Regions from separate parts of the Homo sapiens genome. Here regions 1 and 3 are each linked to region 2. The links come from fine-mapping of genetic effects on gene expression. A gene starts in region 2. Each other region holds a variant in brackets. All regions are shown on one strand. Distances are from middle to middle.

Region 1 (2,760 bases), 630 kb before region 2:
ATCTCAAAAAATAAAAAAAGAATTGAGCTAAAATGAAAGTGTCCTGGCAATTTAGGTATCATGAGTTTCATAACTTCACCTTCTTTTCTAAAAAAGGACACACGTGCTTGCTCTAAACTCTAAGAAAGCTGACAGAATCTTTATCCAGGGATGGTGAATGGCAGTAAAATTCTTTTTCACAGATACAGAAATGTCTTTCATGTGTTGATTTCTTACACCTAAATTGTTGTCTTGTGACAGCATTTCTGTGGGGTGCCGAGAAGCTTTGATCTAAGAGTACCCCTTTCTGGTGCTCTAATTCTAATCTGACCGTGGGGGACAGTCGAGAGCAGTGCTTTTCAAGCTCTAATGTGCATCTGAATGACCTGGGGATTCTAAATCAGTCATCTGGGGTGGGGCCTGAGGTCATGCATTTCCAACAAGCTCGAGAGGCTGAAGGCTTAGAGCAGCAGTTCTTAAACCTGAGCATGCATCAGAAACACAGGGGGCCTTGTGAAAATGGGTGGCTGGGCACCACCTCCAGGGTTTTTGATATAGTAGTACTGAGGTAGGCCTCAAGAATTTGCATTTCTTGGCTGGGCATGGTGGCTCATACCTGTAGTCCCAGCACTTTGGGAGGCTGAGGCGGGTGGATGGCTTGAGGCCACGAGTTCCAGATCAGCCTGGCCAACATGGTGAAACCCCACCTCTACTAAAAATACAAAAATCAGCTGGGCATGGTGGCAGGTGCCTGTAATCCCAGCTACTCGGGAGGCTGAGGCAGGAGAATCACTTGAACCCAGGAGATGGAGGCTGCAGTGAGCCGAGATGGAGCTACTGCACTCCAGCCTGGGCAACAGAGTGAGACCCTGTCTCAAAAACAATAAATAAAATAAAGAATTTGCATTTCTTTTTACTCATTCATTTATGAGCAGGGAAGTGGTGGAGTGGGGGCAGTGGGGGGCGGTCTCACTATGTTCCCCAGGCTGGTCTTGAACTCCTGAGCTGAAGAATTCTCCCACCTTAGCCTCCTAAAGCACTGGGATTACAGGCACAAGCCGCCAGGCCTAGCGGAGTTTGCATTTCTTTTCTTTTCTTTTTTTTGAGACGGAGTCTTGCTCTGTCACCCAGGCTGGAGTGCAGTGGCGTGATCTCGGCTCACTGCAAGCTCCGCCTTCCGGGTTCACGCCATTCTCCTGCCTCAGCCTCCCGAGTAGCTGGGACTACAGGTGCCCACCACGCCCAGCTGATTTTTTGTATTTTTAGTAGAGACGGGGTTTCACTGTGTTAGCCAGGATGGTCTCAATCTCCTGACCTCGTGATCCGCCTGCCTCGGCCTCCCAAAGTGCTGGGATTACAGGCGTGAGCCACCGTGCCGGGCCCAGAGTTT[A/C]CATTTCTAACAAGATCCCGTGTGATACACATTTTAAGAACTGCTGGCTTAGAACATCCCTCATGACTGTGAGTGGTCCCTCACTGGCTTCACATGAAAGTTGATGGTTACAAAATTCAAGATGAAACAACCATGATAGGCCTTCTAAGCAGGTATTTTGTGAGTTTAAATGAAAAGAGATCCACATGCCTTATTTAGATAATGAAGATAAGGATAGCTAACATTTATTAATCTTTTCTCTTTGTAACACACTAAGGGTATAACACACATTATCTCACTTGGCATCTGGCATGGGCAGCAGTGTTGGTGTTTGATGTTTGGCTGAGGAGCCAGACTTGTGTGCGTGCTGGGAGGGGGTGTTTTCGGTGCACTGTTGTGGTCTGCAGAGGTACCTGCATGCCAGGCCAAACTGTCCCTCAGGAAACACCTTTAGATCTAGACTAGCAGACGCTAGAGGCCCGAGTTCTGCTTCACAGAGTCTGCAGGAAATAAATGAAAGAAGTTGAGGGCAGGTGTTAACAATCATCTGTTTCAACCGCAAAAGTACCTGAATATAGAACAGAATTTGTCAAGCCTGGCGCACAGCAGGAGCACCTGGATGCCCGGGACCCATCCACAGAGGGTGTGATTAGATTGGCCTGGAGAGACACCTGGGCACAGGCATTTTTAAGAGCTCCCCAGCCAGGGTTGAGAAACACTGGTACAGGTTTGATTGCAGCAAGATGAATCGGGTTGGCTGAGGAAGGGAAGGGGCAGAGACCAAATTGAACAAAACAAAACATCTATTCCCAGACTGGATCTCTCTTAAGCATTTGCCAAATTGGTTTTGTGCTATCCTTTAGAACAGTGGTCTTCAAATTTAGTATGCATCAGAGTCACCTTGAGGTTTCCTTAAAGCAGATTGCTGGACCTACCCCCAGAGTTTCTAATTTAGCAGGTCTGGGGTGGGCTCAAGAATTTGCATTTCTAACAAGTTCCCAGGTGATGCTGATACTGCTGGTCCCAGAAGCCAGTTTCTTTGCTATTAAGACCTTCATTGCAACATACAGAAGGATGCCTATATTTCTTATTTTCTACTTATTCTCAACTCTTTTTTACTGAAGCAAAAAAATACAAACAAAAGTGAAAACAGGCCGGGCGCGGTGGCTCATGCCTGTAATCCCAGCACTTTGGGAGGTGGATCACCTGAGGTCAGGAGCTTGAGACCAGCCTGGCCAACATGGTGCAACTCCACCTCTACTAAAAATACAAAAAGTAGACGGACATGGTGGCATGTGCCTGTAATCCCAGCTACTCAGGAGGCTGAGGCAGGAGAATTGATTGAACCCAGGACGCAGAGGTTGCAGTGAGCCGAGATGGCACCACTGTACTCCAGCCTGGACGAGAGTGAG
Region 2 (2,760 bases):
GTAAAAGGCCTTTCCTTCCAAGAGAGATAGGCCATAACTATCCCGGGATGGTATGTGTAGTACAGTGCTCTGCTTAACAGAATGTACCATTAAAGCGGTGAATGCTACACTAAGAAACATCATTAACAAATTTATTTTAAAAATAGGTATGAAGGTTCCAATCATCACTATCACAGTTCGTTTTCAGCTATTTAAGGTCTGGCTGAAGTGTTTAAGACACCCACAAACCCGCAAGGGAGGGAAAAACCACCACCCTGCTCCCGGGAGTTTAATGAAAATTAGCAGGTAAGAGAGGCCTCGGCAGCACGCTGGAAATCAAAGAGGGCGGCCGGAGGATTTGGACTGCGGAGGAAAGCCTCGTCCTCCGACCCCACCTCCCCGCACCTTCCCGGCAGGGCGAAGGAGGCGAAGGCGGCGAGGGGTTCATTACTGCCTTCATTAATTGACACCTGTAATGAGGAAACTTTCCGAGAGCCCAGAGCGCCCGGGCCAGGCCGAGCCGGAGCTCCGCGGCGGCCGCCTCTCGGGCGCCCAGGTAACCCGGCCGGGCTGGGCCCGAGGCGCCGCGGCGGCCGCGCCACCGCGCACCTTCCCGGGGCGCTAGGCCCGCACGCCGCCCGGCCCGGCCGTCGCCTCCCGCAGGCCGCGGCAGCCCGGGGAGGCCAGAGAGCTGCGCGAGGACCCCAAACCGTGCACCCCGACAGGCCGCTACCGCGGCTACTTACTTTCATTTAACACCTCCACCAGGTCTGCGCAGTTCTCGCACATCGTTCGGCCGCCGCCCCCCCCCTCCCCCGCTTCGGATCACACTGACTGATCCCGACCGGCGGGGGGGAGGGGAGAGAGGCGGAGGAGGGGGCCGGCCGGCCGGCGGGGCGGGGAGGCGACTAGGGCGGGCGGCGGCGGGGACGGGGCGGGGAGCAAGAGAATGGGGGAGGGGGCCGGCGGTCCCCGCAGCGGGAGGGGGAGAGGAGGGGAGCGAGGGGAGGTGCGCAGGCCGGAGGGGCGCCGAGGCGCCGGCGGCGGGGAAGGGGGGGAAGGACGGGGGGAGGGGAGAGGGGGGGAGGGGGCGGGTGGGGAGAGAAGCAGCAGAGTCACTTCACCGACCAGACGCCGCGGCCACCGCCGACGCCGCCGCCATTTTAACAGAGCGCTCGGGCTGCGCTCGGCTCTTTCCGCCCGGGCTTAGGAGCGGACGAGAGGCGCCTCGCGCTCTCATTCCTCCGCCTCCCTCCCTTTCTCGCCTCTCCTCCGCCCCCCACCTCTCCCTCCGCACACACGCCGCACGCTCCACACCCCGCCGTGGCCGGCTCGCCGCCCTCCCTTTCCTCTTCCGTCCGGCCTCCCCGCCCTCGGTCCACCCCCTCCGCGCGCTCGCCCACCCCGCCCAGCCCGGATCTCTGTCAGCGGCCGGAAGGGAAACGCGAAGCCAGCGCGGCCGCGGGGGGAGTCCGGGTGAGTAGGAGAAGATGGCGGAGGCAACGGACGGGTCGCGGTTGCGTGGCGTCGCCCACCACGACCCACTCCACGGGCTCTGAGGCCCGGGGAGCGCCAGGTCACTCGCTCCGTCCTGTCCCCCGCCCCTGGGCTTCGCCATTTTTCCCCAGGGCCTGGGTCGGGGAGTTGGTGCGGGTTTCTTTGGTGTCCCCGGCCTCTTCCGCGCTTAGGCTTTTGGGGTACGGGAAGCAAGGAGTCAACTTGGGTGCCGGGCCGGGTCTACGCCGTAGCCCTCTTTCGGGCGCAAGGGCCACTCCCCCCGGGGTCTGAGAGTGAATCAGCCCAGGGCCCGGCTTAACTGCATCGGTGATTATCGCTACCCTGCAGTTCCTTGAAGGTCCTCCGTCCTGGAGCAGTAAGATCCTTGACGTAACTAGAAATGGCAGGGTAAGGAGTGTTTGCCTGACATCGTCTCGTTTTTACGGAAGAGGGCCCCTCACGATGTGCCCATCAGCCCCACCTGAAATAGCAAGAAATCTTCTTCAGCAGAGAGCGAATAACAAGGATATTAAGATAAAGAACAGGTGAAGGGGGCAGTCAGCTGAAGCTTGTAAGGGAATTTTCCTCACGCCGGCACTTACCCCTTGCTTGCTAATTTTTGTGTTCAACGTGTTTACATAGACATGTGACTGCAAAGTCCGAAAGATCGTGTACAGAATCTCTGAACGGTAACCAGAGTGTCTGTCAAGGCTCTGTAGTCATTCTCTCGATAGCTTTTGTGGAGGTTATGGCACGCCCATCTCTCCATGCCAGAACCACCTGGTTCCAAATGCTTTGCCTTTCTGCTGCTTGAAGTTGATACTATAAACAGTCTGCCCAACCCGTTTTGTTTCCCACTAGCAGGTGATCCTTAGGATTGTAGTTCTATTCTACCATCATCTTCCCTTCTTCCTTGTCTTTCTCACAGAATTGGGTTTTTGCAGACTTACTTTGGATCCTGAGGCAGACATTCGTTGTCCACTCAACATACATTCCCACGTATCCCTTTTTTCCCTGCCAACACAACCCCAATTATTTTTATTTGAATTTTTTTTTTTTGAGACAAAGTCTCACTCTGTCGCCAAGGTTAGAGTGCAGTGGTGCGATCACAGTTCACTACAGCCTCCACTTTATGGGCTCAAGGGATCCTCCCACTTCCCTAGTAGCTGGGGCTACAGGCGCTCTCCACCACACGTAACTAATTGTTTTTTATTTTTAGTAGGGACAGGGTCTTGCTATGTTACCCAGGCTGGTCTCAAACTCCTGGCCTCAACTGATCCTCCG
Region 3 (2,760 bases), 220 kb before region 2:
ATCACTAAACTACCTTCTGGAAAAACCCAATGCTTTTATTCAGCTGTCATTGTCTTTCATCTCTGTGAATTATATTAATTGATTATTTTCTTCTTGAGATTCTCCTCCCAGTTTGGGGGTTACCATTTTATCCTAATTTTCTTTCTTTCCTTGTCTCTCTTCTGTCACTTTGTCCTCTGTACTTTTAGGTTGGCTTAGCTCTTAAGTCTTTTCCAACAATTACATTATTTCTCAGGCAGATATTCTGATAGATTCAATCACACAGATAAACCTAAAACTTGGATGGCAATAATCTGATGCCATCGTGTTACCAATCTTGTTTTCCACTACTGTTCCATGTGAATACACTACTTAAAAATGCAGGCTGGCCTAATCCTAGATTTTTTGCACATTCAAGGACATTTCTATTTCTCTGCATTCGTTCTTAGTAACTAACTGCATAAGATGCTCTTTTCAATCCGATTTCTATTTGTCTTTCAATATAAAATTAAAATGTTTACTCAACTACTCTGTCCTAAACTTGCCATTTTATGGCTCTTAAGAGCCTTTTGGCCAGGTGCAGTGGCTTCATGCCTGTAATATCAGCATTTTTGGAGGCTGAGGTGGGCGGATTGTTTGAGCCCAAGAGTTCAAGACCAACCTGGGGAACATGTGAATCATCAAAGAATAATAATAAAGGGAAAAAATTGTATAATGTTTGGCACGCATTAGTAGAACAAGTATAGCATTTTTTTTTCTTTTTTGAGATAGGTTCTCAATTTTTTGCCGAGGCTGGAGTGCAATGGCACAATCATGGCTCACTGTAAGCTACCTCCCAGCCTCAAGTGATCCTCCCGATTCAGCCTCCCGAACAGCTGAGACTGTAAGTGCATGCCACGTCTGGCTAATTTCTAAAACTTTTTTAGCAACAGTGTTTCCCTATGTTGCCCTCAAACTCCTGGGCTCAAGTGCACATCCTTGAACTCCCAAAGTGCTGGGATTACAGATGGGACCCACTGTATGT[G/A]TAAGGCAATTTTTATTTGAAGACCACTAAATTATTATTTTCCAAGAAATTCTACTGAAAATGAAAGCTGAGGAAGAATATTTTTGATCAATGTACCAAAATATACACATCCAAAGATAACAACAATACACTGGAAGGGAACCAGCTTGAATGTATTATAGTATAAACACTTATTTAACACTCTAACTCAACAGTTACTAACTCCCAAATCTACCTCTATTCTAGACCTCTCACCAAGCTCTAACTGTAACAGCCAACTGCCTGCAGGACCTTTCTAGCTGGATGCCCCAATGAGAACTCAAATTCAACTTGATTATCTCCCTGAAATTTGCTTATTTGTATCTTAGGAATCAGCATTGGGAAAGTTTCTTTATTCTGTGACTCCATGTCTTCACATGTAAAATGGGGATAATAACAGCATCTATTGCAAAGAAATGCTGTGAGGATTAACTGGATTAAAGTTCTCACAACAGTGCTTGCTAAATAAAAAATACTTTGGAAAGGCTAGCTAGTACAAAAAGTCCCTAGTTAGCTACTACAGAAAATTCCAAAAATAAACAATTCATAAGTGGTGTGGTGTTCTGAGTATCATGATAAAATCTTGTACCATCCTGCTTAGGATATGAATCATCCCTTTGTCCAGCTTATCTGTGTTGCAGACACTACCCACTTATTGGTCACTTAGTAGCTCTCTTATTACATGGGCTGTCATAGTATTGCAATGCTTCTGTTCAAGTAACCCTTATTTGACTTAATAATGGCCCCAAAGGGCAAGAATACTGAGCTTCATTTGTAATTTAAACTTTATCATAGGTATGTTATGCACAGCAAAAAGCAGTATATATAGGGTTCAGTACAATCTGAGGTTTCAGACATCTATTGTGGGGTCTTGCAACATTTCCCGAGGATAAGGGGTTCCACTGTATTACTTAAGAAAATGTCACAAAAGCTAGACATCTGAGACTCGATACAGATAATGATGAAAATGATCAATGTACTTATCGTCCATGTATCTGCTCCCCAAAATCTATACTGTTTCAAGTTGAGTGATTACCACTTTCATACAGCTCAGTATATGTCAAAATAAATGGTAATTCACTGAACAACTAGATGAAAAGTTGCTCCATGAGACTGAGCTCCATGCAGCTGATTTTACCTTCATCATATAATTTCCACCAAAGTTTAATCTTAGTTTACCCTTAGTTTGTCTTTCACTTCTACGGTGAACATAATAAAAATCACATTTGAAAAAGCATACCTTTTTTCAGCTCGTACTTTCTTCCCACAATGAGAACAAGTATACATGTTATCACCTTCCAAAGTGTCTTTTATAGTAACTTCATCAAGAGATTCCTGTGTATAAAACCACATTTAAAAGTTTCATATTATTGTTTATAGCATGCAAATATACAAAAGGTGGCAATTACAATTTTGACAGAATGCTCAGCAAAAAAATTTTTTTTTTAAAAGTGAATTCTTAAATTTTAGTAAAAAACTGTTTTTCCTCATATTAAGATATTCTATGAATCTTAGTAACTTTTTTGAAGGGTTAATTAAAAATTTAAATTTTGATTGGGCAAGAAAAAGCTTTATGGTTGATGTTTAACTCTTATTTGAATAGTACAGTAAGAAGAAAATACATAAAAACATGAAAAAAGTTTAAAAATATCAAGATGACCAACACAAACCCGCTATACACAAATAGGTAAAAGCATAAAGTAAAAAAATTATGTGCATTATTACTCACATAAATGTTC

Direction of the effects. Alleles are on the strand shown, and positions count from the first base shown. SD is a standard deviation of normalised expression in the study named.
For the expression in lymphoblastoid cells of the gene that starts at base 1,163 in region 2, C is the high allele of the variant in region 1 and A is the other (moderate effect, 0.68 SD a copy in GEUVADIS).
For the expression in unexposed skin of the gene that starts at base 1,163 in region 2, allele A in region 3 goes with a higher level than allele G (small effect, 0.12 SD a copy in GTEx).

What was found.
Region 1: its variant is fine-mapped to the expression of USP34 in lymphoblastoid cells (GEUVADIS, PIP 0.95).
Region 3: its variant is fine-mapped to the expression of USP34 in unexposed skin (GTEx, PIP 0.99).

Annotation. Positions count from the first base shown.
Region 1 is chr2:60,839,215-60,841,974 of GRCh38, forward strand. No RefSeq gene overlaps it. Among named protein-coding and RNA genes, the nearest start is that of REL-DT, 41 kb to the right of the region's middle. RefSeq lists an enhancer at 1,855-2,274. The variant A/C (reference allele first, on the strand shown) is at 1,370.
Region 2 is chr2:61,469,925-61,472,684 of GRCh38, forward strand. It overlaps USP34 (ubiquitin specific peptidase 34), which reads right to left and starts at 1,163. Exons shown (of 80, transcript NM_014709.4): 1 at 726-1,163. The coding sequence starts at 768. It overlaps USP34-DT (USP34 divergent transcript), which reads left to right and starts at 1,172. Exons shown (of 3, transcript NR_185882.1): 1 at 1,172-1,455. RefSeq lists silencers at 485-904, 995-1,074, 1,105-1,414.
Region 3 is chr2:61,254,123-61,256,882 of GRCh38, forward strand. USP34 (ubiquitin specific peptidase 34) reads right to left here. Exons shown (of 80, transcript NM_014709.4): 47 at 2,751-2,760; 48 at 2,262-2,356. Among named protein-coding and RNA genes, the nearest start is that of C2orf74-AS1, 77 kb to the left of the region's middle. The variant G/A (reference allele first, on the strand shown) is at 1,004.